Regions from separate parts of the Homo sapiens genome. Here region 1 is linked to region 2. Evidence: fine-mapped expression QTL. A gene starts in region 2. The other region holds a variant in brackets. All regions are shown on one strand. Distances are between the middles of the regions.

What was found. PIP is the estimated chance that this variant, and not a neighbour inherited with it, causes the effect.
Region 1: its variant is fine-mapped to the expression of RAPGEF2 in whole blood (TOPMed, PIP above 0.99).

Annotation. Positions count from the first base shown.
Region 1 is chr4:158,928,798-158,944,897 of GRCh38, forward strand. The region is part of intron 3 of SPMIP2 (sperm microtubule inner protein 2); the gene reads right to left. Among named protein-coding and RNA genes, the nearest start is that of SPMIP2, 98 kb to the right of the region's middle. The variant A/G (reference allele first, on the strand shown) is at 7,590.
Region 2 is chr4:159,094,770-159,110,869 of GRCh38, forward strand. It overlaps RAPGEF2 (Rap guanine nucleotide exchange factor 2), which reads left to right and starts at 8,310. Exons shown (of 30, transcript NM_001394067.2): 1 at 8,310-9,462. The coding sequence starts at 9,394. RefSeq lists an enhancer at 7,460-8,151 and silencers at 7,800-8,339, 8,470-8,689, 8,730-9,019, 8,768-9,062, 9,030-9,449.

The sequences.
Region 1 (16,100 bases), 170 kb before region 2:
CAGCGAGACCACGAGCCCACCGGGAGGAACAAACAACACCAGACGTGCTGCTTTAAGAGCTGTTAACAGTCACCGCGAAGGGCTGCAGCTTCACTCCTGAGCCAGCGAGACCACGATCCCACCGGAAGGAAGAAACTCTGAACGCATCAGAACATCAGAAGGAACAAACTCCAGACGCGCCACCTTAAGAGCTGTAACACTCACTGCGAGCGTCCGAGCGTCCGTGGCTTCATTCTTGAAGTCAGTGAGACAAAGAACCCACCAATTCCGGACACAGTATGATCTTGGCTAACTGCAGCCTCAACTTCCTGGGCTCAAGTGATCCTCCCACCTCAACCTCCTGAGTAGTTAGGACTACAGGTGCATGTCATCATGCGTGGTTACTTAAAAAAATTCTTTTTGTAGAGATGGGGCCTTGCTCTATTGCCCAGGCTGGTCCCACGCTCCTGGCCCCAAGCAGTCTTCCTGCCTTGGCCTCTCAAAGTGTTGGGATTACAGGCATAAGCCAACATACCCAGCACAATCTCTGGCATTTGATTGGATTGTTTAGTCCATTTACATTTAATGTGGTCATAGTCATTGATTTGGTAGGATTTATGTCTGTTATTTTGCTATTTGTTTTCTATAAGTCTTAAATATTTTTTGTTTCTCTATTTCTTCATGCTTGCTTTTGTGGTAGATATTTTCTATCATTTTAGCCTTGCATTTCATTTAAATAGTACACTATTTTAATTCCCTTGTTGTATCTTTTAGTATGCATTTTTGAGTTACTTTCTTAGTGGCTGGTCTGGGGATTATCATTAATATCTTATTTCAAAATAATCTAGTTAGGATTAATACCAACTTAATTTCCATCATATGAAAAACTTTGCTTCAGTATAACTCCATTTCCTCCTTCCTCCTTTGTGCTATTAGTTTTAGACAAATTACATTTTTCTAAATTATATGCCTATCAATATAATTCTATAATTATTGTTTTATGCAGTTATCTTTTAAATCACATAGGAGAAAAGAGAAGTTACAAATCAAAAATATATTAATACTGACTTTATAATATACCTATGTAGTTACCAGTGCCCTTTATTTCTTCATGTGGATTTGAGTTCATGTGTATGGTCCTTTCATTTTAGCCTGAAATATTCTCTTTAGCATTTCTTGCAGGGCAGGTCTGCTAGTGAAAAAAATTCTCAATTTTTGTATATCTGAGAATATCTTACTTTCTCTTTCATTTTCGAGGCATAAAAGCATAGTATTCCTGCATACTACAAATTTCTGCATACATAGAATTCTTGGCTGACAGTCTGTCTTTTAGCACTTTGAATATGTCATCCTCCTGCCTTCTGGCTTCCATGGTTTCTGCTGATAATTCATGTTAATCTTATTGAGGATCTCAGTCTCTCTCTCTCTCTCTCTCTCTCTCACTCGCTCTGAGTTGAAAGAGTCTTGCTCTATCACCTAGGCTGGAGTGCAGTGGTACAATCACAGCTCAGTGAAGCCTCGACTTTCCAAGCTCAAGCAATCCTCCCCACCACAGCCTCCCAAGTTGCTGGGACTACAGGTGCACACGACTTTGCCTATTTTTTGTATTTCTTATAGAGACAGGATTTCATCATGTTGCCAGGCTGGTCTCAAACTCCTGGGCTCAAGGGATCCACCCATATCAGCCTCCCAAAGTGCTGCGATTACAGGCATGAGCCTGTAATGCCTGGCTTTTTTTTTTTTTTAAGAGATTCTGTCACCCAGGAGTGTAGTGGTGGGATCAGAGCTCACTGCAGCTTTGAACTCCTGGACTCCAGTGATCCTTCTGTCTCAGCCTCCTGAGAATTTAGGACTACAGGCATGCACTACCATGCCCAGCTAAATTTTTTATTTTTATTTGGATAGAGATGAGATCTGACTACATTGCCCAGGCTGTTCTCAAACTCCTGGCCAGGCCTGGCCTCAAGCAATCTTTCTGTGTTGGCCTCCCAAAACACTGGGATTAGAGTCATGAGTCACTGTGCCCAGCCTTTACTAAGGATCTGTTGTATATGATAGTCATTTTTCATTTTCTACTCTCCAGATTCTCTGTCTTTACCTTTTAACAGTTTGACTGTGATGAATCTTTGAGCTTATCTTACTCAGAGTTTGTTAAACCTCTTGAATATATAGATTACTGTTTTTCATCAAATGTGGGAAGTTTTGGCTATTATTTCTTCATATATTCTTTCTTCCCTTGTCTCTCTCATTTACTTCTGGGATTACCATTTTGCTATGTTGGCACACTTGATGGTGTCCCACAGTCTCAGAGGCTCTGTTCATTTTTCTTCATTTTTTTTTTCTTTTCTGTCAGAGTGGATAATCTCAATTGATCTATATTCAAGTTCACTGATTACTTTTTGACAGCACAAATCTACTCTTGAGCTCCTCTAGTAAATTTTAGTAAATTCTTTATTTTTTATTATACTTCTCAACTCCAGAATTTTATTTTTAGATGTGGTCTCATTCTGTCACCCAGGCTGGAATGCAGTGGCATGATCTCGGCTCACTGCAACCTCTGCCTCCTGGGTTCAAGCAATTCTTGTGCCTCAGCCTCCCAAGCAGCTGGGACTAGAGGCACTGTCACTATGCCCAGCTAATTTTTGTAATTTTGTAATTTTAGTAGAGACGCGGTTTCATGATGTTGGCCAGGCTGGTCTTGAACTCTTGACCTCAGGTGATCCACCTGCCTCGGTCTCCCAAAGTACTGGGATAATAGGCATGAGCCACCATGCCCAGCCCAGAAATTATCATCATCATTATTATTATTGAGACAGGGTCTGGCTCTTTTGCCCAGGCTGGAGAGCTGTGGTACAATCTCACCACAACCTCCACCTCCCAGACTCAGGTGATTCTTGTACCTCAGTCTCCCAAGTAGCTGAGACTACAGGTGCATGCCAGCACACCCAGCTAACATTTGTATTTTCAGTAGGGATGGGGTTTCACCATGTTGGCCAGGCTGGTCTCAAACTCTTGACCTCAAGTGATCTGCCCACCTTGGCCTCCCAAAGTGCTGGTATTACAGGTGTGAGCCACTGCATCCAGCAACTCCAGAATTTTTAAAATAATTGCTATCTTTTTATTGATACCCTCTGCTTGATAAAACATTATTCTCATACTTTAACTCTTTAGATACAATTTCCTTTAGTGCTTTGAACATATTTATAACAGCTGATTTAAAGTCTTTGTCTGAGCCGAGCATGGTGGCTCACACCTGTAATTCCAGCACTTTGGGAGGCTGAGGTGGGTGGATAGATTGAGGCCAGGAGTTCAAGACCAGCCTGGCTTCAGGTAGAAATACCGGGTACAATTTGTTTTTCTTTGCGTAAATAAATAATACATCTGTTTATGCAGTGTTCTTTTAAGGAAGACAATTAAAATTCTTAACACTAAACAATTTCAAGAATTGTATGTCAAAGCCGGGTGGATCACTTGAGGTCAGAAATTAGACACCAGCCTGACCAACATGGCAAAACCCCATCTCTATGAAAAATACAAAAGTTAGCCAGGCATAGAGGTGGGAACCTGTAATCCCAGCTACTTAGGGATCAGCTGAGGCAGGAGAATTGCTTGAACCCAGGAGGCAGAGGTTGCAGTGAGCCAAGATCGTACCACTGCTCTTCAGCCTGGGTGACAGAGTGAGACTCTGTGTCAAAACATACATACATACATACATACAGAATAAATAAAAATATAGTTTTTGTCTGGTAAATCCAATGTTTCAGTTTCCTTGGAGATAGTTTCTATCGACTGTTTTTTTCACCTTGTGTATGGGCCATTTCTCATTTCTTTGGGTGTCTTAATTTTTTGCTTTTGGCAAATGTCCATGGGGTAGAGCACACAGAGAGTCAGGTCAAACAAAAACAAGCCCTGAGAATGAAGCTTTTCAGGGGATTTCAAGACAAGTCAAAAATGACATTTCTTTGGGTACAGGGCTTCTCAAAGAGCTTCAAATCTGTGTTCAACTTCCAGTGACTGGTAAGCTGCTGATGTTCATAGTTTCCATGGATGTGAGGCTGTTGGTTTTCAAGGCTGCCATGGAGCTAGGAAGAGAGGAATGGGAATAGTACAATTTCAAATGGCACAAAAATCATTGTTATTACAAAGATTCAGCCATGTTTCTCAAATGAATGCTCCAAGAATTGCTGCAAGCATTTGGTTTATTCCCAGTGGTTTCTTGTTTATACTTTATTTATTTATTTGTTAATTACAGAGTCTCGCTCTGTCACCCAGTCTGGAGTGCAATGGCGCAATCTCGGCTCACTGCAACCTCCATCTTCTGGGTTCAAGCGATTCTCCTGCCTCAGCCTCCCAAGTAGCTGGGATTACAGGCACACACTACCACGCCCTGCTAATTTTTGTATTTTTAGTAGAGACAGTGTTTCACCATGTTGGTCTTAAACTCCTGACCTCAAGTGATCCGCCTGCCTTGGCCTCCCAAAGTGCTGGGATTGCAAATGTGAAAACGTGCCTCCAGTGTTTTCAAAAAGGTGATTTTGATGATTTTTGCCAGTGTTCTTGTTTCTTTTTTAGAGGAGCATATTTTTGGAGGTCCTTAGTTCACCATTCCTGAAGTGCTTTCCAAACTGTATCATTGTGAAATGAAACAGAGACTCACTATTTAAAGGAAAAATTGCCTTTTCCTTTTGTTTCCACTTCTTCATTTGCCCCTCCTCCATATGCTGAAGTTGTGCCTTGGGTTGCCATTACTTCATTGTAATGGTTCTTACCCCAGCCAACAGCAAGCTCTTTTCTGTCAGATAAAATCATCTCTTTTCAGACTTTCATATATGGCTTCTCAGAAGCATCTGTGATTGTTGACATTGCCTTCTTAGAAACCCTTTCCTCTTGGACTTGCAAAACTTTTTTATGTCTCTCCTTCTACCTCTAATATTATTTCATCTATATTTCTTTTGGAAGAATCTTTTATTCTTTCTGTTCCTTTACCATTGGTATTTTCTAGAATTCTACCCTCAATTCTTATCTCTTTGTACACTGCCACTCACCTCCAGGCCAGGGAATAGTATTTATATCCAAGAATCAAACCAACATCAACATATTGATGTTTAAATTTTTTACTTTCAGTTCTTACAATCTAGACACAAATGCCTGACTTTTTACTGGACATCTCATAGCTGGTAATACTTTCTAGTACGTATTGAGACATATGAGGTTACAGACACTATGCCAGTTGGTTTATATGTATTATCTCTCATCTTTCTAATAATTTCTTATAATAGGTATTATTACCCATTTTTTACATACTCAAGATCAGACTGCTAAAAAGCAGAAAAGCTAGGACTTGAACTCAGAGTTGTTGCCTTCCAAACCTATGCAATTATCTCATCTATAAAATAGGAACAGGTCAGGTGTGGTGGCTCACACCCGTAATCCCAGCACTTTGGGAGGCCTAGACAGGTGGATCACTTGAGGTCAGAAGTTTGAGACAAGCCTGGCCAAACAGGTGAAACCCCATCTCTACTAAAAATACAAAAGGTTAGCTGGGCGTGGTGGTGGATGCCTATAACCCCAGCTACTCGGGAGGCTGAGGCATAAGAATTGCTTGAACCCAGGAGGTGGAGGTTGCAGTGAGCCAAGATCGTGCCACTGCACTCCAGCGTGGGTGACAGAGCCAGACTCAGTCTCAAAAATAAAATAAAATAAAATAGGAACAATAATGTAATACTACTTATGAGGGTTAAATGAGTTAATACTTATAAAGCATTTAAAATGGTATCTGACCCATAGTAAAAATTTATACGTGTTAGCCGTATTATTATTATTATAGAATGCTGCCTCTCAACTTATCTTCCCATCTCTCTGCTTTCCCTACCCACCTGTCACCCCTCAAAATACTCTCTCCTTCTTGTGTTCCCTATTTTGGTCAATGATATAACCATATACTCTGCCACCCAAGAGAGACATATCAGAATTAGCTTTCATTTTTACTTCTCCTCCATCCCTCCACATTTAGTTGGTTGCCAAGTCTCATTGTGTCTTTCTTTAAGCTATCTCACCACCCCCAGCTCTCTAATTCAGGCTCCCATCATCAGGATTATTGCAATATCACGTAACTTGTCTCCCTCGGTCTCTCCTTCCTCAGCTCCATTCATTCAGCAAACAGTTTTCTATACCTATTATATATCAGGTATTCTTTCTAACACATGGATTTGATTATATCACTTCCTTAAAGAATTTAAAAGAACAGGTCATTGCCTATTAGAATTAAGCACAAAATCTTTAGTGTGGAGTTTAAAACACTATGCAATCTTTTTCCCTATACTGCAATTCCATCTTTGCTTCCCACCAAACTTTTAAAACAATACCCTGTGTTTTCGCCATACCAGACAACCAGTCATTCCCTTAAGACATCATGATGGTTCACCCTTCCATGCTTTGGCTTATGCAATCCCATATGGCTGGAATTCCTTTCCTGCCTCCACCTCCACACTCTTCTTTTAATTTCCCACACAGCCTTGAAAATGCAGCTCAAGTGTTACCTCTCCTACAAAGCATGCCTCAGTGTCTACCCACCTGCAACACTGGGACACAATGATTCCCTCCTGTCTTCCCCACAGACCATTGTTCATACCCACGACACTTGGGGTAGTCATGTTGACTCCTTCCCTCAGTAAATCTGTGATAAAGGGAAGGATTCATTCCTTACGTCTTTGTGTCTTCAGCATCTAGCCGAATTCCTGACATAGATCACATTTTCAGTCAATTGTGCTTGTTTCTCTAATGATACAAAAAAAAAGTGTCTGTCTCTGGTGACGGAAATTGTGACTGCACAACGATAAAGGGTTTGGAGTGTGGTAGAACTGATTTTAAATAACAAAACATATTTAAATTTTCCTTAAACATTGTTGGTTATTTGAGAAATGACCAAGATTCTCCTAGCGGCCTGAACGTCTGGGAAATGGGGTAAGAAGATAAAATAGGCTTCAGCCTTCAGTGAGGAAAGGACTGGCTGTGCCTTACTTATATAATGTCTAAAACCAATAGGACAAACTCCACTTTAATTTTGACACTTTAGCCAGAGAAAACACTCCAGAGGGCTGAAGAAGGGACCCGCCGGGGCTGCTGCTGAGCTGGGTCTTTGGTCTTCCACCTTTTTGTGACTTGAGCTGGGCCCACAGTAGCATCCATGTCAGCCATTTTGATTCACGACCAAACAATTCAATGAACTCTCAGTATTTTGGCAAAATAAGGAGCTTGAATAAACATGTTGACTTAAATGGATCAAAACAGATGGTTATTCTGGATAACTGACCACCCAGCTTCAGTCTTGCCCAGAAACAAACCTTATATTCTTCTCTTTGGCATTCTGACCCACACCTTCTGGAGATTCTCTGGTTGACTAAAAATAATTCTAATAAGTGGCAAAATTAATGTCTTTTTGGATTCCAAAATTAAAGAAAGAAAATCACTGTTTGTTTGAGTTCCAGGGAGTCAGTCTAGTTGCCTAATATAAACCGCAGAAACAGTCATTCACTTGAGTTTCACATAGAGAAATAATGTGGAAACTTCCCTTTAGGACTTCAACATTTTCCTTGCAGCATCAGAACGTG[A/G]TGTAACTCTGTGTATTCATGTATTTCAAACTTGTGAAGAGGACCGGTGCCATATCTGTGCCGTGACTTAAAAGCACGACCTGTTTCCTCAACAAGCTGGTTTCCTTCAATGTTTGCTTTCTCACAGTGGTACCGATTTCTGCTCTTTCCATTTCCAAAAGTACTAAAAAGCCATTGATGGCACATGGAAATTTTTGAGAAACACATTTAGAAACCATTTGGCAGGATCTGTGCTTTCTGGGAGAACAAGCCTTCTTTCCCTGTTATTTTCCCTTTGGAAGATTCACAGGAAAACAAGACCTCTGCTCTTTAAAGATCTTTTTTGTGTGTGATGGTGTAGTCCACACCTACAGAATCTTCCAAGGAATCACAATTAGGGCTTTAAAGATGTATTTAATCATATTTTCCTCGCTACATTGGCTTTCCACATAGGTGGGGTGGGTGTTACTGCTGACACAGACATATGTGGTATTTCAGTGACACTGGCTGCCTGAGAAAACACTCCCTTTTGTCCTTCTCTGCTCCTTTTTATTCCAAAACTGGAGGTTAGGCTAACAGTGCACACAGCTAGGAGAGGTACTATAAGGCATGATCACCCACCCCTTCTCGAGAGAGCATATCTTGAAGGGGTAATACCACAAAGGAGGAACGGGGGAAACCAATGCTACAGGTCCGTTTTAGACGTATCATCATTGAGCTGATCCAACCTTATTTCTCAGACATTAATCTTCCTTTTCTCCCTGCCGCCATAGAATCATTCATGATAATGTTGTATCTTGTTTGCAAAACATTTCATCTTAATCCTCTGGGAGAACACTTATTTGATACTGGATCAACAGTTGTCATGGAGATGATTCAAAACAGGAAGTTATCTTTATATTTTGTATTTGGATGAACGAATGACTAGACAACCATATTTAGCAATTATTAATAGAGAAAAATTTAAACGTTAATGGAGTTTACCCAAGGATAATTGTTGCCTGGGAGGTTCTTGGTAAGTGCAACCGAAAGGGGTTTATAAAAAGAAGCAAAATTTTAGCGATCAAAATCCACAGGAGCTTATAGAGATTTATCTAGAAGGCATGGGTCATGCTTACTTGTTTTATGTGCAGTCTTCAGGATGCTGGGAAAATCGAGGTTCTACTTCTGAGTGGTGGCATCCTGTTTAAAATAAAGGTCCAAAGTAACATCCAACTGTTTAATCAAGACAATTTGAGGCACTTAGCAGCCTTAAGGATCCAGAATCTTTCCATCTGTTTCTTCTGTCTTTAGACATTGTCTTGGGCAGAGTTTACTGAGCACACACTGACTATGTGTTCAGCCATGTATGAGGTCCTCTGGGAACCCACAAAGAAAGTGAACAGTCTATGTAATATAGACTCATGGCAAAAGGCACAAACATTAGTATATGCATAAACAATAACTGATTTACGGCTATACCTGTGCATGAGTGAAATGGGTACTAAGAGGTTATTTGATGACAATAAATTCCAAGGATAATCAGTTGTTCATGATGAAATATGAAAGATAATTTTTTATACCAGCTTAAATCTTTTATTCTTGCTTAGGAGTTTCCTCCCTCCCAAGACAGCAAAAATGTTTATGATCTGTTTTACATCATTAACAATTCAAACATGAATTTATGAAATGGGTCTGCGTATCTATGGACAAAACTATTTTGCAAAAATGGTAAGAATTATTTAAATTTCTAAACAAAATTGGATGATCCCACATTAGTATGATACCCATGCTGTCTGGGGATCAAAATGAAATCGCTCCCCGAAGAAGTATTTAAGAAAGCACAAGAGACGTCATCCCAAATTGCCAGTGTACCTATTTCAGACAGATGAATATTGCTTAAATGCCATTTTTAAAAGGCAGAAAGAGGTAACAAAGTGTAAACATATTTATTTTTCCTTTAAGAAGGAAAAGCCCACTCTCTAGGGCTCTCCTCTATAAGGGAAGCATCAAAAAGATTATGCAGTTCAGCCAAATTACATGCACCATATGCTTCGAACCTCAGGTTGTGACTGTTTTGGTTTGATTTATTGCTTTGATTTCATAGGAATACAACCACTCTACTTGAAGGGCTTGTTAAATATTCTACCACTATTCTAAAGAATTAATTGAAACAAGAAAGGTCTCACATTATGCTAAGTGAACACTTACTCGCTAATTTGCCAGATTGCCTTCCCCAAGCTCCAGAATGTGAAAAATGCCATCCTTGCCATAGTGACGTCACCAGGACATTGCTGGTTGCCCTTATGGGCTCCAGCTGGGCTTCTAGTTACACCAGTCATGCACTCTAAATCAAGCATGTTGTCTTCCTGGGCAGAACAACATACTGCAAAAGGTTACTGTTGCCAAGAGTTTGTCCATGATGTAAAAATACACAGTGTTTATTGATTTTCATTCAGTATTTTTAAATGATTTATATGGAGTAATGAGCACATCAGGTTTTCTCCTGCACACAGCCTCAGAGGCAGCTGTCCAAAATCTTACCAGAAATGTGGCCTATTAGATCATCTAGGGTCATCTATTAGAAGTGTTGAATATAATTCCCGGTGTTCCCAGAGAGGTGGGAGATTTTATAAGACATTCAGGAAGGTCTTCCAATTCCAACAGTTTGGGGCTTCTGAAACTAAACCAAGTCCAGTTTCTCTTCACGCTGGTGCTTCCTCAGCATCACTTGCTAATTTATACATCAGAGGGCAACACAGGGAAGGAAGGAGGACAGTGTTTCTGTGAGCTGATCGGTAGCAATTGGAGTGAAGGTTCTTTGGGAGACTATAGCAGTATTGACTCAGTTTAGTTTTGGATAAGTTTATCTATCCAGATGGTAAATCTTGACATGTATTAACTAAGAATAAAGTTGATCCAACTTATTTTAGTTACTTTGCAAATTTTAAATATACACAAAAAAGACAAAATAGTATAAAGATCCATAGAACTAATCATTCAACTTCAAAAAATATCAATTTATAGACAATCTTATTTCATCTCTATCCTACTTACTAATCTCCACACCACCCCATAATATCTTTTGATATGACTCTCGAAAATATGAAAATTCTTTCTTAACATACATTTCTCCTAAAAATTTAAAAATTTTGACCAAATATTCAGTATTCAAAAGTCTGATTTGTGTCATGTTAGGAATTTTTAACAGTTTGTCTGTTAGGACAATCCAAGTAAGTCCCACACCTTGCAATTGGTTAACTTTCTTTTAATTCATAGGTTCTCTCTCATCTCTTTGCTTCTCTTCTCTTTCTTCTCCCTCTTCTCCTCTTATTTGTTGAAAAAAACTGGGGCCGGGTGTGGTGGCTCACACCTGTAATCCCAGAACTTTCGGAGGCCGAGATGAGTGGATCACCTGAGGTCAGGAGTTCGAGACGTGAGCCAAGATTGTGCCACTGCACTCCAGCCTGGGTGACAGAGCAAGACTCTGTCTCAAAAACAAAAAAACAAAAGGATCCTTTATTCTATAAAATTTTTCACAGTACACTTTTCTGATAACATCTCCACGATGTCATTTAGCATGTTCCGAGGTCATCTTATTTCCTATACATTGTCAGTTGGCTTTAGAGGATTGATCTGCATCAGGTTGGGTTTTCAGGGGGCAAGACTACTGTATTAGTTTGTTAGGGCTGCCATAACCAAGTATCACAGACAGGGTGGCTTAAACAACAGAAATGAATTTTCTTACAATTCTTGAGGCTAGAAGTCCCAGATCAAGGAGTCTGCAGTGTTGATTTCTCCTGACGGCTCTCTCTTTGGCTTGTAGATGGCCATCTTCTCCCTGTGTCTTTACATGGTTCTCCCTCTGTACTTGTCCAAATTTCCTTTTCTTATGATCCCACAATTAGGAGGGATTAGGGCCCACCACAATGACCTCATTTTAACTTAATTACCTCTTTAAAGGCCCTATCTCCATATACAGTCACATTCTGAGGTAGTGGGAGTTCGAAATTCACCATATGAACTTGGAGAAGGAAACAATTCAACCCAAGGAAACAATTCATCTTGGGTGGTGGTGTGTTTTTCCACCAAGATGCACTAAATATCTCAGCGTCACTCTTTTTGTGGTTTTGGCAGCCCTGGATTTTCAGTCCCTAGATTCATTGATTCATCAGGGTTTCCAAAGTGGTGATGTCCTAATTCTGTTGTTCCTTCTTTTTTTTTTTTTTTTAGCTGAATAACCTTGATTCTTTTTGAAGTCATTTTATTTTCTATTTGGTTATGCACTAACATATTGCAAAGGTGGAATTAATGTTTCTTTCCTCTTATTTACCGTTTTCAAAATAATGAGTTGGTTTTAAAATAATGTAACCAGTTTGTTGTGTTTTTCCTAAAGTGACAGTATGGACTTGTGAATGTTCATGGATACATATGTGGATATGTATGTATGATGTATATTGATCCATTGCAGCTATTGCCCTTATTGTTCAAGTTGTCCAGTTTTTTTGGCCAGCAAAAATCTCTCCAAGTTTGGCTCCTAAGTCCCTTAGACAGGACTGCAGTAGTCTCTGATGGCTTTCTTGCTACCTGATATGGCAAGATGTTCTAGGTTCATCTTTTTCATTTCCTTCTCCAGATCCAGAATCAGCCATTTCTTCAAGAAGCACCAATTTCTTTTAGGAGGAAAGGTATTTGAAGAATCTAAGTACTAGGAGACATCACAGCTACTGAGTTGATCTCTATGTCTAGGCCTTTACAGAGAATAGCGCCAGAAAAAAAAATGCAAATGCACACGTACAGATAGACAAATAGACATATATAATCTTCCAGTCAAATTCAGGGTTTGTTTTTCAGGTATTTTATGTTAACATCTGTGTTTTCTCTCTCCCACTCCAAGAATGCTGGTACTCAATCAAACCAGGAATGATTGAATAAGAACATTATATGATTGATCATTTATCCCACAATATACCCACAACAGAATCTGAGTAACACTATGAATGCCTCAACCAAGCTTTCTGCTGTTCTTTTTGTTCTCTGGATATACCACATTAGAGATTTATACTCACTGGGTGGTTGAGGTAGGAGGATTGCTTGAGGCCAGGAGTTCCAGACAAGCCTGGGAAACATAAAGAGACTCTGTATCTACAAAAAAATTTTAAAAATTAGCTGGCTGTGGTGGTACCTCCCTGTAATCTCAGCTACTTGGGAGGCTGTGGCAAGAGGATTGTTTGAGCCCAGGAGTTCAAGGCTGCTGTGAGCTATGATCACATCACTGTACTCTAGGCTGGGTGACAGAGGAAGATCCTGTCTCAGAAAACAGAAAGGAGATTTCTGCTCAAATTATTGTGCTTTAAATCTCTTGGAATAACTCTACTCTGTGAATTAAACTATCAACTAGAAACATGTGGCTTTTTAAAGAAAGTAATATTTAAATTAATTTATAACTAGGTAAGAAATGTACCTGGTTCCAAAGAAAAATCAAGGGTGGAACCAGCATTGCTCTATTTTTTTTTTCTTGTTGCTGTCATTACCATATGGTTCTAATGCAGATTAAGAGATGGTGGTGTTCTGGTAGATTTGGAGGAGGTGATACTTGAATCATGTCTTACCGAACAGCTGCAAAGAGTGACTTTGGTTCTGGTAGAAACTGTCTTGAAGATCCTAGCTCTGCTCAGTGAAGAAAACATTTGTTCTGCCACCCACCATGTAATTCATCCTTGAATTTTAATGAGTTAGCCTTTAGGCTGCTAGACAGAAACAAGCCACAGCATACTGCATAAACCCTGCCATCTTTACATATTGCTGTAGAAGCTAGAAATGAAAAGTTTTTATTGTCAAATGTGTGGTAATTGTGCTCCAAGGTAATTCATCTGAATGTGTGACGTTCCATTTCTAAAATAGCAGCATCTTGGAATCTAAGTCCAGCACTTCTAGAAGCTAACTCCTACCAACACTTCAAGCTCAGGTGAACTTATTGAGCCTTCCTGATCCCTGTTCGAAGTTAGGCTTCCGGATATGTGTTTCCACTGCACCCTCTAAAATCCTCCCTGATGTTAACAGGCTTTGCACTCAGTTGTTAAACTGTGTTAAGTATCCAAACCCAGCATCGAGCATTGTATCAGCACAAATAGGTAATCCTGGCTGGACACTGTGGCTCACACCTGTAATCCCAGCACTTTGGGAGGCCAAGGCAGGCGGATCACTTGAGGGTCAGGAGTTCGAAACCAGCCTGGCTAACATGATGAAACCCCATCTCTACTAAAAATTCAAAAATTAGCCAGGCATGGTGGTGGTGGGGAGGTGCCTGTAATCCCAGCTACTTGAGAAGCTGAGGCACGAGAGTCACTTGAACCCGGGAGGTGGAGGTTGCAGTGAGCCAAGATTGCACCACTGCACTCCAGCCTGGACCACAGAGCAAGACTCTGTCTCAAAAAACAAAGAAACAAAACAAAACAAAAAACAAATAGGTAATCCCTAAATGTTGGTTAACTCAAAATTTCTATCACTGCATCCTAATATACTCAGGTAAAATTACCTATTTATGTATTCTCCCCACCAACCAGATGATAAGCTCTTTTAGGGCAGGAATTACGTTTTATTTTCTTGGTACTATACTTGTCCATAGTTTGATGGAATAAAAAACATTAGTGATGCTGTTTGAAAATTGAATTAGAATTACAAAGAATAAACATGAGCTGCTCTTAAGAAACATAAGTTTGAGTCAACATTTAAATATAAAGTGATAACATACAAAACATCAACTTAATGCTTACCGCTGCAGTCTGCCTTTTGTACCCTCAGACTCTATAAACATAATATAAATGTTTCTGTATATTTTATTCTGTGTTTTAATATCAGGCCTTTAAAGCAGTTAATTGCTTAGTTCATCTGGAATTAATTTTATTACATGCTATGAGGTATAGCTATAATTTTACTTTTTCCAAAAGGTTAGCCAGTTGCCCCAATTCCAATTTTTCTTGGATCCTATATCATGGTGGCTTAACTCTTTTACAGAACAATTGGATAACCTTGCTGATACAAACACCTGGCCTCTAACTTCAAGTGGGCCTTCTTTGTTTCCTCAAGACCCCTGCTCACTTCTCATTCCCATCACTCTCATCAGTTCTCTATAGGACAGAATTTTTTTACAAGACTTCATAGACCACTGAATTATACAATTAAAATGATTAAAACAGTAAAATTTGTTATATATCTTTTACCACCATTTTTTTTAATAGCCAAAAAAGAAGACTCCATGGAGAACAAGGCCTTCAGGTTTAAACTTCATCAACTACCACCATAACCCCATACCCCACACTTACATGTATAAGTGCATTCCTACCTACATATGCAAGCCAATCCTGTCTCCTTTTTAGTCTCTGGGAATGAATCACTGCTGACCCCAGAACAGTGCTCCACGCAGTAAGCCCTTCTCTAGATCAAGCTTCTTGAATCCTAAAAAAATCCTACACTTGGCCCTTCATCTGCCTCTAGTTACTATTGACATTTTCTTTTTTTTTTTTTTTTTTGAGACAGTCTCGCTCTGTCGCCAGGCTGGAGTGCAGTGGTGTGATCTCGGCTCACCGCAACCTCCACCTCCTGGGTTCAAGTGATTGTTCTGCCTCAGCCTCCCAAGTAGCTGGGACTACAGGCGCCCGCCACCATGCCTGGCTAATTTTTGTATTTTTAGTAGAGACAGGGTTTCACCATGTTGGCCAGGATGGTCTCAATCCCCTGACCTTGTGATGCAACCACCTTGGCCTCCCAAAGTGCTGGGATTACAGGTGTGAGCCAACGCACCTGGCCACATTTTCTTCCTTATCCAAATTTTTCAAAAACCATGGCATGTTTTGGTTTATTCCACTTCACCTCCCATTCATACCTCCCACCCATCCCTCTTTGCCTTCCCCTCCCTCTTCCCCTAAATTGTTCTAGTTGTTCTCTTCTCACCAAGTCTCTGTCTTGGTGAGACAGACTGGCTGTCTACTGAAGAAAGTAGACATCTTATTTCTTATTTGACGTCTTATTTCACGGTGAACCTCAGCCCCCCAGGGTCTCCTCTGCTTCTGCTGTATCTTCTTTCATGGCTCTTCTTTTTACAATCAGAGTTTGAATTTCCTACAATTCTGCCCTTATTCCTGTGGTCTTTTCCCTTCTCATCCACTCACACATTTTCAAATACAACCTAAAAATGATGGCAGAAAGAGCTCTTCAGCACAGTATTTCCATCCAGCTTCATACATCTACCTCTACTTGTCACTGGTGATCCCACAGAAACCTGGAATCCACCTGAACTCATCATCTTCCCCATTAAGGGAGCTGCTTCTTCCATGCTGTGTCTGAGTTGATCTGCTTCTACTTATTCACTCAAACTAGAAAATTTGGAGTCATCACTGCCTCCATGACTACTTTCATCCCTTCTGGTAAGTCCTGATAATTTTTCTCCTTAATAATTCTGGAATCTGTTCCTCCTCTCCACTTTGACTCCACTCCTCTAGGCCACTATCATTCTCCTGGGCTGCCTGACAGATTCATACCTGGTCATGCCCT
Region 2 (16,100 bases):
GCATTTTTTTTTCTAGAGACGAGGTTTCACCGTGTTGGCCAGGCTGGTCTCAAACCCTTGAGTTCAAGTGATCTGGCTGCCTTGGCCTCCCAAAGTGCTGGGATTACAGGCGTGAGCCACCGCGCCCGGCCTGCATTTTTTTTTCTAGAGACGAGGTTTCACCGTGTTGGCCAGGCTGGTCTCAAACCCTTGAGTTCAAGTGATCTGGCTGCCTTGGCCTCCCAAAGTGCTGGGATTACAGGCGTGAGCCACCCACCTGACTGCAAGGAAGATATTTCTAATCACATTTTACAAGGGTGGAAATTTAGGCTCAGAGAAGTTAAATTCTTTACTCAAGGGCACAGAGCTAATGTATATCACAATAACCTTTCAAATTCAGGGCTATCTTATATCAGTCCTAAGGTTTTTCCATTATATCACTTACTTCATATATTCTATTATAACCTTATAAAGCTGCATTTATTGACTCCATTGATAACGCAGATCACATTTCCCTCCCTGTAGCAATATGATAAAATTCTGTTACTTCAATCACTTCTATGCTATTTCTTTTGTGTCAATAGACCCATCTATGAGGCACCTGGCCAGGTTGGTGTGGAGTATTATGGGCTTTTATTGGTTTGTGACTTGGTTTAATTATCACTGGATTCTTACAGAAAGGCTATGATGACACAAACTCATTCCTTTTAGGTGAGATAAGCATAAGGTGAAACTGAACTCTGTTTTAAATGCCATACCAGAACTTATCACTGGTTCTATTTATGTTATGTGATAAGTAAAACACAGGCCGGGCCTGGTGGCTCACGCCTGTAATCCCAGCACTTTGGGAGGCCGAGGCGGGCAGATCTCGATATCAGGAGATCGAGACCATCCTGGCTAACATGGTGAAACCCCATCTCTACTAAAAATACAAAAAATACCTGGGCATGGTGGCAGGTGCCTGTAGTCCCAGCTAGTCGGGAGGCTGAGGCAGGAGAATGGCGTGAACCGGGGAGGCGGAGCTTGCAGTGAGCTGAGATAGCGCCACTGCACTCCAGCCTGGGTGACAGAGCGAGACTCCGTCTCAAAAAAAGAAAAGAAGAAAAACACAGAAGATGGCCAGGACCAATTGTGATATGTCTCTCAAGGGCTTGGACAGTTCTGTCTTCTGAGCCATGTCTCATACATTATCTTCACTTAGTCCCTGTATTGTATTCCATCCAATGCTGACAGTTTCTCTTTTTGCCATTTACTTGTGCTTTCTTCCTTCAGGTCTCTAACTTGATACATGTCACCATTTCATATTTAAGCCTTCCTCTTTAAACTCCCAAAAAGACAATATGCTTTTCTCCTTTGATTTTCCTCCTTAATTTTTTTTTTTTTTGCAAGATAACGGACTTTCTGATAGCTAAAACAAAAATAACAATCTGGCTGGGCGCGGTGGCTCATGCCTGTAATCCTAGTACTTTGGGAGGCTGAGGCAGGCGGATCATGAAGTCAAGAGATCGAGACCATCCTGGCCAACATGGTGAAGCCCTGTCTCTACTAAAAATACAAAAATTAGCTGGGCGTGGTGGTGTGCGCCTGTAGTCCCAGCTACTCAGGAGGCTGAGGCAGGAAAATCACTTGAACCCAGGAGCCAGAGGTTGCAGTGAGCCGAGATCGCGCCACTGCACTCCAGCCTGGCGACAGAGCGAGACTCCATCTCAAAAAATAACAATAATAATAATAATAAAATAACAATTAAAAAAAAGCCTCATTTTCTAAACAGGTCCTCAGTGTGTGTTTCCCATGCCCTTGTTTGCCCTTCACTTCCTTTGCCTAATTTAGATTTGTAAGCTCAACACATAAGCACTTTGTCTTTGTTTATGTACATATGGTGCCTAGCACTAGTCTTGGGTTTACCAAATATTAAATAATCATGACTTCAGAATGATTATTAGTATTGGCATTTAAAAAATCATAGCTGGCCAAGAATACTGTTTTGTTTTGTTTTCTCAAATGACCTTTTCTGATTTTGACACTGCTATGGTCGACAGCTGTACTATAGCACACTTACATTTACCCTTGAATACTACCTGGAGAACAGAGTTGGCACCAAGTGTAGCTGTTTTACTTTTTTGGAACACTTTTACAGATTCTGCACTGCACACCGGTTTGCTTATGGATGTAATTTCAGTTGTGTATAATCACCTTAACAGAACGGGAAAAACCCAGATACCATCTTGTACAATGCTCTATTATGACAGAATTATCTCAATGGGTTAACTTTGCATGTTGGAAATGGGAGGTTTTTTTCTCTTTGATTTACTAACTTGAGCATTCATGATATCTAGTGTAAGCTCTAAAAAAATCTATGCATTAAATACTCTTGGATTATGTAGTGCATTTATATTGTTAGAGTTTAAAATAAAGTTCTTAATTTTACCTGCTTTTAGGCTTAAAAAAAAACAAAAAACTTAATCTGTATCTCTTACCTAAACTCCTTTACTCCCCTTAAAGCTGGCCAAATGATTCTGGACCATCATCCCATGGGCCAATTTATAAAAATAAATGCCAAATACTACATAACAATAGAAGGAATTGATGGTAGATTAGAAGTTTAACAATGCATTTCCTTTTAGAAATGTCAGCATCAGCTTTCTCACAATAAGGGAAATACAAAGGTTGTTCTCTGCCACTGGCCCTATATTTCAAGTGCAAACAAATCAATGAAAGAAAGTAGTTATGTCAGTGTGAGGGATACAATAGTGTAACTGAATAGAACAGTTTCGTTAGTGTGTATATTTTTTATTTTTATTTAATATTATGTCCAGACAGAACCTAGGTAATAATATTGATAAATCAGGGGGAGATGGTTTCCTTTTTCTGAATCAGTTCCAAAATATCTAAACATCTACCTGACCTCTATGTTAGTGTAGTTCTGCGGCAGCATCCTCAACTCTGAATGTTATGATTCCTGTACAATCAAAATGAATAGTCTGATACTCTACCTGTGCTTCTGATACATTTCATCATGAGATCCATCCTATAAACTCACTGTATCTCTCCCTGAATGTCTGTAATTGTACTCCCCATCAGGGACTCTCTGGAATGCTACTTGTAGGTGAACACAATATTTCCTAGTGGAGTGTGCTCACTGAGAATGACACAATGTGTAAACAACACCCTTCCACCCTCCTGAGATTCTTACTGACTTGACTACAAGGGTAAAAGTAATTGCAAACCAACGCTTAAAAAAATGTTTCTAGGGAAAGGGGAGTGGTGTGAGGAATGTCTTTAACAGAATCCAACTTCTCTCAGCTGGAAATCTTGCCTTGAGAGGGTTGTAACCACTGGAGAAAGCAGTAAGGAGAGGAAGCTCTTAGCAGAGGAGGGCAGTTTCCTGGATCCTTTCTATTATCCTTACCCTCCTTATAGGAGAGGTGAGTAAATTAAACCAATGCTTGGCACATGGAACAAGCTCCCAGGAGGCCAGGGAAGGAGCCATATTTGTCTTATTCATTACTGGTATTCCAGGCATGGAGATCAGTACCTGGCACACAGCAAAGCACACAATAAATATTTATTGATGGAGCAGTAAGGGCTTGACGTGTTTTTAAAACAAAATGACTATGTATGTAAAATCTCCCTAATCTTGGGTATAGCTGGACTCACGGGAATTTAAAACAAATATTTTAATTCACTTTTAAAGATGACCCTAAATGCCTAACCCACACGATATATTTAGGGATCTATTAGATTTTACAGTTGGAAAGATCAAAGCTTTTTAAGTTACAAGTAGAATGGTATTAAGGCCAGAACTTGAAAAGTATTTCTGAACTTAAAACCCAGTGCTCTGTCTCTCTTCCCATCCCCCAGTGATTTTCTAGATAATATGATGGTAGTAGAAACAGAACAAAGAAACTCTCATTTTTACACTTGCCTTTATGAGGCAGCATAATAGATAGCTTACTTTGATTATGGTTTGCTGACACAGTTTGGTTTAGACTAATTGGCAGAGTGGCAGATCTTTGTCTAATTCTGTCTTCCAGGTTGTGCCTAGCACATTACTGGTGCTCAAATGTTAATAAAACAGCAATGCATGCCAAGTATCTGATGTCCTAGATGCTGAGTGGTGATATGCATTATTGACATATGTAGATAAGTAGGTTATACATAGTGTGAAAATTAGCTTTAATTGAAGTTAAATGATAGCTTAGAAGTTGACAGTGAGTTAGTCATTTTGTTGGTGGATAAGACATACTATTATGTCTTACCTGAGGTGATTGATGTAATTCAGTGTTACAGTAGAGCACACAGAGAAAAAAGACTTGGGTGTGCAACTGGAATTCCTAACTCTTGCTGTGAGATCTGGCAGAGAGGCATTCCTGTCTGGTGTAGAAGGTCCCCTCTAGCATCCCCCCTCCCCATGGGGCAAGGAGTTCCATACTCTCTGAGCACCTGGAACCCTGGTCCTGACTGCCTTGCCACTTCCAGACCTCATCTTCCAAGGCTGGCCCCTGGCCCGAGGAATCACCAAGGGGTGGCTTTTTTGAGGGGTGTGATATCACTTAGATGTGTAGGCTGGGTTGTCCTTGTCCTTTTTTTTTTTTTTTTGAGATGGAGTCTCACTCTGTCACCCAGGCTGGAGTGCAGTGGCTTGATCTCAGCTAACTGCAAGCAACCTCCACCTCCCAGGTAAAAGCAAATTTTCTGCCTCAGCCTCCTGAATAACTGGGACTATAGGCACACGCCACCACGCCAGGCTAATTCTTGTATTTTTAGTGGAGACAGGGTTTCACCATATTGGTCAGGCTGGTCTGGAACTCCTGACCTCGCGATCTGCCCACCTCGGCCTCCCAAAGTACTGGAATTAGTACAGGCATGAGCCACCGCACTAGCTGGGTTGTCCTCTTATGTGTGAGCCTTTCCATGGGATAGGATGAAGCTGAGATGGAAAGAAAAGGGGATTCCAGTTGCAGACCAGATACCAGTACTCCCTGCAGTAGTACTCAGTACTCCCCCAGTTAATTTGTAGCTTTTAGTATTTATGATAGAGTATATGGATCCCCATTTGTTAGCTGGCTCCAGAACTTTCTAAAGTTAAAGGCAGTCCGGGAACTAGGACAAGTCATGTAGCCTATTTTAGTGTCAGTTCTTCATCTGTAAATAAGATAACACTGTCCCACTAGCCTCAGAGAGTTGCAATGATGAGAATAATCTTAAATATAACTACCATTTATTGAGTATATACTGTTGTTAAACCACTATGCAAGGCACTTTGCATGTATTATCTTGGATCGTCACAAATCTTCAGGGTATGCAACTTTTTCTTTTTTTGTGACAGGGTCTTGCTCTGTTACCCAGGCTGGAGTGCCATGGTGTGATCATAGCTCACTGCAACCTTGAACTCCGGGGCTCAAGATAACCTCCCACCTCAGCCTCCTGAGTAGCTAGGACTGCAAGTGCACCCCACCATGCCCCGCTCCTTTTTTTTTTTTAAGTTTTTGTGCAGCCAGTGGTCTTGCTATGTTGACCAGGCTGGTCTTGAACTCCTGGCCTCAAGCTATCCTCCTGGTTCAGCCTCCCAAAGTGCTGGGATTACAGGTGTAAGCCACTTTGCCTGGCCAGACTATTCAATTTGTACTCTCTTTTTATAAAACAGAAAACAGGCTCAGAGAGGTTAAGTTTCCTCTCCCAGTTTTCTCCCCGCAACCAGGGACACAAGTGAGATAATGTATGTAAAAATCTCATACAAATACAAGGTAACATGAACTACTTCATGTATCCATTTAATACCTATTTGTTGGCTGCCTGTCTTGTGTTGAGGATATAGCAGTAAATAAAAGGGACAAACATCCCTGACTTAGAAGCTTACATTACAGTGGAGGGATAAAACAATAAATAAAATAAATAAGTATAGATGGTTCTCAATTTACGATGGTCAATAAATTGACTTTCGATTTTTCCACTTTATAATGGGTTTATCAGGGTATTAAATGCATTTCTGACTTACAATATTTGCGACTTACAATGGTTTCTCAGGATGTAACCCCATCCTAAGTGGGCAAGCACCTGTACAATATACAGTATGTTAGGTGGTAAGTAAAGCGACGAAGATAACCAGAGTGTATGGAGTTACAGGGAAGGTGACATTCAAATGAAGATATGATGACAATGAGGAACAACATTCTATATTTTGGTTGTTGTGTGTGTGCATTTTTCTTTTTGTTTTTTGTTTTTGTGGGTGCAAGTGGGGTGGGGAGAGGGGGAGAGATAATCCAGGCAGTAGAGGGAACAGCAGATGGAAAGGTCATGAGACTGGAATTTGCTGTTTCAGAAACAACATGGAGGCTAATGTGCTTGGGAACAGAATAGTAGAAGAGGTCAGAGAGATAAAGGTCCATAGGATATTCAGGCCATGGTAAGACTTTGGCTTTTACCTTGAGTGGTATGAGGAGCTAAGCAGAGGAATGATTTGAGAAGGAGTGAAAAGAATTCACACTTTGGCTGCTGTGTTGGAAATGAACTGTATGGCAAGCAAGGTTAGAAAGAGGGGGACCAGGTGGGTGGTTATGACAAAGTGCTGGCCAGACATGATGCTGGATTGCACCAGGGTCATGGCAGTAGAAGTGGTAGATAAAGGTTAGAGTTCAGATATGGCATTCTGGAGGTTGAGCTGACGATTTTTACTGACACTTTTGAGGTATAACAGAAAGAAAGGAGTCAAGGAAGTCAACGTTTTCACCCAGGAAGTGAGAATGGTGTAGATGTGATTAACAGAGGATGGGGAAGGCTGTGGGTGTCTGAGACAGGAGATCTGGAGCCTGGTTTGCACATGTGAATTCTGAGATGTCTATTAGACACCAGGTGGAGATGTCAGTTATATTTTTTCACTTCATTGGGTTTGAATTCTTTTATCTGCCTCTCTCCTTTTTTCAGAGCTGTATTGGCACTTATTCATGTTCCTTTGCTTTCAAGGTAGTGGCCTATGTCATAGAGAATTTGATGTTGGCGCTCAACTAAGAGGTGAAAGAGAAATATAGAGAAGCAGTTCCAGCAAGAGTAATATAAAAAGGTCTACAGATACAATTTGTAACTCAGATTCCCTTTCACAAGGTTGGGCAGGGACAGTCCCTTTGCTAGGAAGTCACACAAGCTGTTTAGTGCACACAGGTGACTTAAGGAACCCCAAAATGTTAGCTGACAATCTATTCCAAGTGTTTAAACTAGATGTTGAAAATCATGTTTGAAAAGTTCAACGCAGTAGCTCATACATAAAACTCATTGTGTCTATAGATATCAAAATAAGAACTTGTGGGGGGTGGGGGCAAACAAAAATAAATCCCTGGGACCAGAACAGCAGAGTGGTCCCCGATGCTTGGGCTGACCTTAACACACCTCTACGTGGCCGGGGCAAGGAGTGGGGGGGAGCTGAGGGAATCAGCAGGAGCGGTGACATCTTGAAGGACGAGGTATTGTTTCTGCACCATGTGGGTCCGGTTTGGAAATTTGAGCATCTAGAGGAGGAGGCTTGTTCTGTCCAAGGCAAAGCCAGACCTACCAATAAATGTTTCTGATTATGTCACAGAACTTGCCATCCTGGTCTGTCGCTAAGGAGTGATCAACTTTAAATCTGGAGTGTTTGTTGGTCTAGGGGTGGTAGTGGGTCTGGTGTTGAAACCTCTCTGCCTAATTTCGTGGTCATTTTACTGTCTGAGGTGCCAGAGTGGGCTTGGAAAGCAGGGGAGGGTGCAGCAAATTACAAATAAGCAAAATAAATCCTAAGAGGATTTATCGCCACAGAAGCAACTCGGACGCAACTCTTGGGCTCAAAAAGAATGCCCAGTACAGCCCGGGCTGGTGGGCCGGTCTTTTGCCCAAGGTTAGCTTTCAGCCCCTGGGCGGCGGCGTGGCGCCAGGAGCGGGCGGGGAGCAGCGACCCGACGCGGCTGGGTCTCCTAGTAGGGCGCGTCGGGTGTGGGGAGGGGGCGCGGCGTGAGACAGTGGGGGACACTGCGTGAGGAAAGCCCTGCGCTTCTCTCCGGGGCACCAGGACTTGCGCCCCCTCTTCGGGTCCAGGCCGCGCGCGGGACCCGACAGCCCGGCCGAGGGCTCCGCGACCCACTTGCGGCCAGAGCGCTGCTCACCTGGGCGCCGCCGAAGGTGCCGCTCAGACGCGAGGGCGCGGCCGCTGGCGGGCGGGGAGCGGGGAGGCGGGACCCGGCGCGACGGGGCTGCCCCGCCCCCCGATGATGCGGCGGCCGCCGACTCGCCCCCACGCTGTCACTCATTCCTCACCATGGTTGCAGCACAAAGCAACAAGCCCCAGAGGCCGCTTCCTCCCTGAGGAGCGGCTCCGGCGGCCGGAGAAGGCGCAGGAGGAGGAAGAGGCGGAGGAAGAGGAGGGGAATCGCCGCTTCCCAAACACTCTCTCCGAGGGGGCTGTGCGCGGCTCTCGGCTTTCGGCCCTCGGACGCCCGCGCCGGGAGTCCGAACCCGGGCTGTCCGCGGCCCCCTCTTCCCCCTCCTCCGCCCCGCGCAGACGAGGAACAAAGTTGCCGAGAGCGACTGGGCCGGAGGGCTGCAGCCCGGGCCGGGTGCTCTGGCCGCGGCGGCGCCGGCGCCGGGGCAGCTCCGCTCCGGGCGCGCTGATGGGGGGAGGCGGCGGCGGCGGAGCCCACAGCGGCGGCCCGAGCAGCAGAGGCGGCGGCGGCGGCGGCTGGGCGGCCCGAGGGGATGCAGCAGCAGTCGGGAGGGACGGCCGAGCCCAGTAGACAGAGACCAGGAGCGGCGGCCGAGGCGATCGGGCTTCGCAGCGCCCGGACCTGAGCCAGACCCACCTGGTCCGTCCTCCCGACCGGCGGCCGAGGCGCCCGAGGACTGGGGACGCGGAAGATCCAAGTGATTCTCGGAGACCCCTGGGCGGCGGCTGCGCAAGCCCCTGAGAGGAGGGGGCGACCCTCAGCGCCGTGGGGGAGGAGGCTCCGCCTGCCCACAGCCCTCCCCACTGCCACTCGTACCTCCCTAAAAATAACTCGGGCCCGCTGGGGCCAGGAGGAGCCGCCACTGTCCCCCGAGTGGAGCCGGGGAGGCGTGTCGAGCCAGGGCCGGAGGAAGCCGGCGGAGCGGCGAGGAAGAGGAGGAGGAGGAGGAAGGGGAGTTCCGCCTGCGGGCCGCATCGCACGGCAGCCTAGGGGCGCCGCGACCCTCCCGGCTGCGTCCAGCCCCTCGCGCCTGTACCGCGCTCTCGGCCGCCGGGCCCAGCCGAGCCGCCCCCCCGCGGGCCCCGCGCCGCCGCCGCCGCGGTTTGGCTGATTAGTCGCGGGCGGGCGGGCGGGCGCAGCGCGCAGGGCGGAGGCAGCAGCGGCGCTGGGCCGGGAGGAGGCCGGCCAGGGTGCGGAGCGGCCCCGGCCCGCTCCCAGAGGGGAGATGGCGTCCTACGTAGATAACAGCTTCCGCCAGGCGGTGATGAAGAATCCCCCCGAAAGGACCCCCCAGGTGAGAACGCGGCGGCCGCCTGCCCTTGGCCGGATTTCTGCCTCGCAGGCTGCGTCTTCCCCTGTCCCCCCACCTCCTTCCTGACACAGTTCGCCCCGAGCACCCCACTTCTTGCATCAGGACCCCCAACTTCCAAAGGCATCCCACCTCCGAGTCTTTTACTCCGCCTATCCTGGTTTTATTTTTCCCTCTCCTTGACATTCTGCTCCTTAACTCTTCCCTCCCCATGACTGACCTTTCCCACTATGTTGCCCAGCCGAGAGAGAGAGAGAGAGAGAGAGAGAGAGAGAGAGAGGGAGAGACAGAGAGAGAGAGAGAGAGAGTGTGTGTGTGTGTGTGTATGTGTGTGAATGTGTGAATTCTCTAGCTTTCCCTCTCCCCAGCCGCCCTCCGTGGCCTCTGAATCTCAGGGGATGGAGTCTCATCTCCCCTCGGGCAGCGACTCTTGCTCCCTCTGACTCCAGATCCGTTCCTCCCCTTGCAAGTGACCCTTGGAGTTCAGTGGTGTTTGAAAGGTATAGGAGGAAACCTGTACGGTTGTGCTAAAGACAAATCCATGCTGACCTTCAGTAAAACATTGAGGTGTTTGTATGTTTACTGTTTTGCTTTTATTTTTTAAAGGATACTGCTTTCAATTGAAGGGAAAAAAAGTTGAATAGCTAAGTTAGTGCTTTTAGTTTAAATTGCAGACATAGCTGCAGAGCAGGCATGTTCCAGTACACCCTCGGGAAGGGCACCCTGCGGATTCTTTTGGTGTTGCACAACCTTGTCAAAATTAGATAAGTTTGTTAACCTTTATACATTTGTTTACCTGCAGGCTTACTCTTCTCTTACTTATAGCGGCTGATAGGGTTGGATTTGGTTGTCTCAAGTTTTACTGGAGAGGGGGAAATTTTATAAAAATGTGGTAGCTTAATTTTCTCCGCCTTTAGTTGCTGACTGGATAATGACGCATATTCCTAAGCGTTGGGATGGTGACTATAGGAGATCCTGCCTGCCAACCCTCTTAAGACAAATAAGCCCTCCTGATCCTTGGGACCATCAGACATTTAGGATCTAATGCTTGAAAGTGTTGCTTCGCTTGTTAGATGTTGGATGCCATCTGTTCAAATCCAAATGCTCTCCTTCTCTGATGTTGATTATTATTTACTGTGGGGAGAGCATAATAAAATAGACTCTTCCCCTGGCTGCCTTTGGACAAGCCCCAAGAGTGGCACCTGGTACCGTTTTTGATTTTTCATTTTCCTTGATGGAGCTGTCACATCTGGGAGATCATGGATAGATTGCACATATTTATCAAACGTGTGGAAGATGGCTGTAATTTTACAAGAAAATTTATCTGTCTCCAGAAAGTTCCCATTCTAAAAGACTATTTTTATCCCAACAAGGAATGTCCTGCATTGATCTTGTTCTTCTCTTGGTGTTGCACACGCTGCCTTTCCTATGCCTTTCTCATCTATTTGTTTTAAAATGGTCAGTTGGATCAGTCTTCTGCATCTGAAAATGCACATTCCCTGTCTCAGTGTGAAGGAAAAGCAGATTTCAGTGAGATATTTCATTTCCTTTCAAGAATATTGTTTTAAGTGCCAAGTGAAATTACGCATGCTGAGAATATTAGAACCTAGCAAGGCTGGTCAGAAAATGATGTCAGAGGCCTTTGGTGGAAATTAGAGAAGGGGGAAGTGGTGCATTTGGTTGATTAGTTAGAAGAATAACAATGACTAAAACCTACTATCAGGTTGGGGGGCGGGTCACCAAACAAGACTAGAAGAGACAAAACCTCCACTGTGACTGTGGGCCCACTGTGCCAAATAAATGAACTGTTAAACTTTCCTGTTCCCCTGCCAGTTGTGTAGAATAGAGTAAAAACTGACCCAACACAGAACTTGGCCTGGGCCAGCTACTACTAACCCACGACATGAAAGCTTTATTGACAGTCGGAAGGCAGCCCATTTGCCCTACCAAACCTTCATAGAAAAAGTAAACATAAGGAAACCTACCAAACATTTCAAACATTCCTAAGTGTCAGCCCTATTAACTTTGATGTTCGTTTGGTTATTACTACAAATCCCCACGTTTATTTCTTTTCAAGAGAAAGTTGTTCGAAATGTGAACGTTTTCCATCTTTACCTGACTGGCCAGGAGTAATCTTATAAAAATTTGAAATTTACTCAAAAATTATAAAAAAAAAAGTTTTTGTAGAAGGTACTTTTTATGTTAAGAATGCTTTGTTAATGGAACGCTGGAAGATTTTCCATACAGCCTTGTCTTATAAATGTTTGTGAGTTCGAATTTTATAATATTAGAAAAGCAACCATGTTAAATAAGCTTGATATCATGAACAGAAGGACAGGAATTAGGAAAGTTTTGCTGTTTTGCTTCCTTCTGTTTCTGAGGATAGACTCGATAAAGGAGTTTGCATGATTCTCGTTATAGGCAAAAGGAAAAGAATTGGGGAACATATGTAATTTTTTTTCCTGCTGTTCATTTCTGTTTGTTTTTTAAAGGCTTGCTGGCCTCATTCATTTCCCAAGCTCCGTGAAAACATAGTTTTGTATTTAGGTCAATCAATTGCCTAGAAGTAATCCTGATGTCATTGGTGTAACCTAAGAAGTTGGCTAGAAGAGAATCTAGGGGTGGGAAGAGTACCAGGAACTTTCATAAATTGGGAGCTTTTCATGTCCACCTGCACAATGGAAACGCATTTCAGTTATATCTTTAGAGAGGGGGAATAGTAAGGAGAAATACCAAAAAAATTATCATCTAAGTTTTAGCCAGGTTATACATACTCAGTTTCAAGAGACTATCACTATTTCACCTGATATTGTGAGAGGAGGAGGAAAACTCTAATCCAATGTGTGTCCCATATTGTGTGTCTGGAAACCTGGCTGAGTTCTAGTCAATGGGGCATTGTATTCTAAATAACAAACTTCCTTGAAAATAATGAGCCCTGAAAACATTCTACTGATATTTTTCAGTGCACCTCTGTTGAAAAACAGGACTCTTAAGTAATTGCTTTATTTAACCATTTGGGTTTATGTCTTTAATCACTTAAATGAGAAGCTTGGTCACCAAGGCAATTTGGTGAAGTAAAAGATGTAAATAAATTACAAACAGCTTTTATCCCCCAAGGCTTATACAATAAAATGGTTTTTCTAAACCATTTTGTTAACTTGTTGAGTTCAGGCCCTTTGAAATTGCTTCTGTAGAGTGTCTAAATGCATACCATTTTCAGTTTTTCAGGTGAAACATCTATTGCAAAACTGTTTCTTCTCTTTAAAGACCTAATGTAATGCATTTTTAGCTAGTTGTAAAAGTTACTGTTAAAAATGTTATGTGTAAAATAACCCCCACCCCATCTCCTCCTATTTAATAATCTTACTTTTTTTTGGGCTATTACAACTTTTGATATAAGTACTAACTCATTGATGTGTTATAAAGAATACAGGACTTAATTCATTGCTAAGTACTTGGTAGAATTCATCGTGAGTCATAATGAGAGGGCTGAAAAAAGTAACTTTAGCTCAGAGAACTGTAAATTATGAGAAACGGCATGAAAGAATATCTCTGACAAATATTTAACTTTCAAATCTAATGGAAGAATTGTGTCTGTTATAGTTAAATTTTCCATTTGAGTTTCTTTTTACCATTGCTTATAAGCAGACTCATATTTGTCAGCTTATACTCTCATTATATTTTAGCCCATTTTGGGGCTCTAGTAATATTTGTTTCTTAAATAGTTTTTGTTCATAGAATACAACTAAACTATCTGTATGCCATTTAAAAAGCATGTCTCATAAAGAAATGATTGGCCACAAGCAGTTAGATTTCATAACAATGACATTTGAATTTCTTGGTACAGAAATACATTTATAACTGAAATATTAGCTTCAAACTCTATTGGTATGTGACTTTGAACAAATGAGGAATTAAATTTATGATAAAAATATTAACATTCCTTGCAATATTGATAGAACCTTAGTCGCCTTCAAATAACCCTTTAAACATTTAGTAATTAACAGTTCCATAATTAGCTTTGCATATCTTGGCTAAGGTTCAAAATGAAAATCTCTCCAACTGCAGTGCTTTATGCAGATACTCGTTTAATGCAGTCGCAGTCATTCCCAAATGCTGGAATTTCACAGAACTTTCTTTTTTTTTTTTTTTTTTTTTTTAAGGAGAAGATGACCACCTTGGTTTTTCTCTCAAGAAGGAACATAAAATAAAAACAAAACTAGTTATAACTTCTTATCACTATCATTTAATCTCACTGTTTTTAAGAAAGGAAGGATGCAGTGTTATTCTAAAGCTCAGTTTTGAAAGAAAATATTGTTTGCGTCATAAGAAAATTCACTGCATTTTTTCATTTAAATTTTACTTTGGACCTGAAAAAAACTTATTTGGGTAGATTTTGGATGATTTAAAGAATCACAATAAGGTCTTTCTTTGGTGATATTTGATGAGATGGGGTGCTTTCAGGATGGTATGGCGATAGACAATGTTTGGTAAGAGAGCGAGATATATATATTTGGAATAGGGTCTTGCTTTGTTGCCCGGGCTCACTGCAGCCTCTATCTCCCAGACTCAAATGATCCTCCTGCGTCAGCCTCGAGTAACTGGGTCTACAGGCTTATGTCACTGTGCCTGGCTAATTTAAAAAATTTTTTGTAGAGATGAGGGTCTCGCTTTGTTGCCTAGACTGGTCATGAAGTCCTGGGCAGAAGTGATCCTCCTGCTTCAGCCTCCCAAAGTGCTGGGATTACAGGTGTGAACCACTGCACCTGGTCCATTGGTGATAATTTGAAATTCAAGTTGCATAAAATTATAATGGGATGCGCCTCAGATATAAATGGACTATCCGAAATAATGATATGATAACCTTCTAGAAATAAAAACTCTGATTTTGCTTGATTCATATGAAAACTTAATGAGAAAAAAAGTATTCCTTCTTTGTAAATTTTATATGGAAGTAACTTTGGCCAGGAGTGGTGACACATACCTGTAATCCCAGCACTTTGGGAGGCTGAGGTGGGAGGATCTCTTGAAGCCCAGGTGTTCAAGACCAGCCTGGGCATCATAGCAAGGCCCCGTTTCTATTTAAAAGAAAGGTAAATTTGATTTAGACTTAGGAGATATGGAAACCACTGAAAATCGTTGGTCCTTGATAATCCGTATTTTATGGGGTATTCCTTCTCTTCACTCCATTTTTGGTAACAATTTCCTCGTCGGTAAAATGGATAATAGCTGTCTGAGGTTTTGTGGATTAAGTGAAAGTACATTATTTAGTGTAATGCCTAATGTTAGTCCTCTTTATAGCATATTTTATACAATTTCTATTATTTAACAGGCCTTGGGAATTCAAAGATGAAATGTGTGTCCCTCAAGTAACTCACTAATCTATTGTTATAAGTAGATTGTAATTCATGAGTGCTGTAACAGCTATCCTATGACAGCACTGAAGAGGATGTGGACTTCCTAGATGAATATGTATTGAGTTGTAGGGGAGTAAGAATTCACCTACCAGTGAACTAGTGGACCTGAAGTGGTATTCCAGATTGACCTACTGTCATATGAGTAGCACACCTGGTAAGACAACATGTGCAGCTCTTTGTTCAGTGTGCTGGGAACCAGGGGACTGAGGAGGGGGTAAGGAATGATTACTGGCATTTAGAAGCTCATGGTTTGTGAGGGTAGTGAGGAGACCAAGAGTTCTGTTAAAGACTGATGTTCATTTTCCTGGCTTGAGATGGCTGGGAAGCTGAATTACACAGTGGTGATGGATTAGAAATATTGCAGGAGTAGAATCTGCTGGACAGGCTGGCTGAATGTGTGCACGTTTTATATCTCATTATAGTAAAACTGTGTTTGAATCATACCAGTGCAGCCTAATTATGGCACAGGATGATCATGGATATTTCATAGTTCATAGGAAAAAATCCAAGTTGTTGAATATAGTTTTCTTGATTTTTAAGGTTTCTCACACTATTTTTTTCCCTTAAACATTAATGTCTTCTACTACATGTACATTCTGGGAATCTAGTTTGAAATATCTGGTTAATCATATAGTTAAACTAGGCCAGGTGCTGTGGCTCATGCCTCTAATCCTAGCACTTTAGGAGGCTGAGGCGGGTGGATCACTTGAGGTCAGGAGTTCAACACCAGCCTGGCCAACATAGTGAAACCCTATCTCTACTAAAAATACAAAAAATTAGCCAGGTGCCTGTATTCCCAGCTACTCGGGGAGACTGAGACAGGAGAATCACTTGAACCCTGGAGGCAGAGGTTGCAGTGAGCCGAGATTGTGCCATTGCACTCCAGCCTGGGTAACAAGAGCGAAACCCCATCTCAAAAAAACAAAACCCAAAACACCATCATGTAGTTGTACTAAATATATTTCTTAATCTGTAATGATAATGTGATTTCCAAGCATTTCATCATTTGGAAGAGTTGGAGAACTTCTGAATTTAAGCAGGCAAAAATGAACTTATTTATATAAAAACTCAAAATTGACTTGTGACGACACAATGTAATGATGGCATTGAGTCTTTGAGAACAGTTTTTTACTCCTTTATACCATTTTTTGTTTAGATAAATTAATTGATGTTGGTAAATTAGGAGAAGCAATCTGTAGTACATAT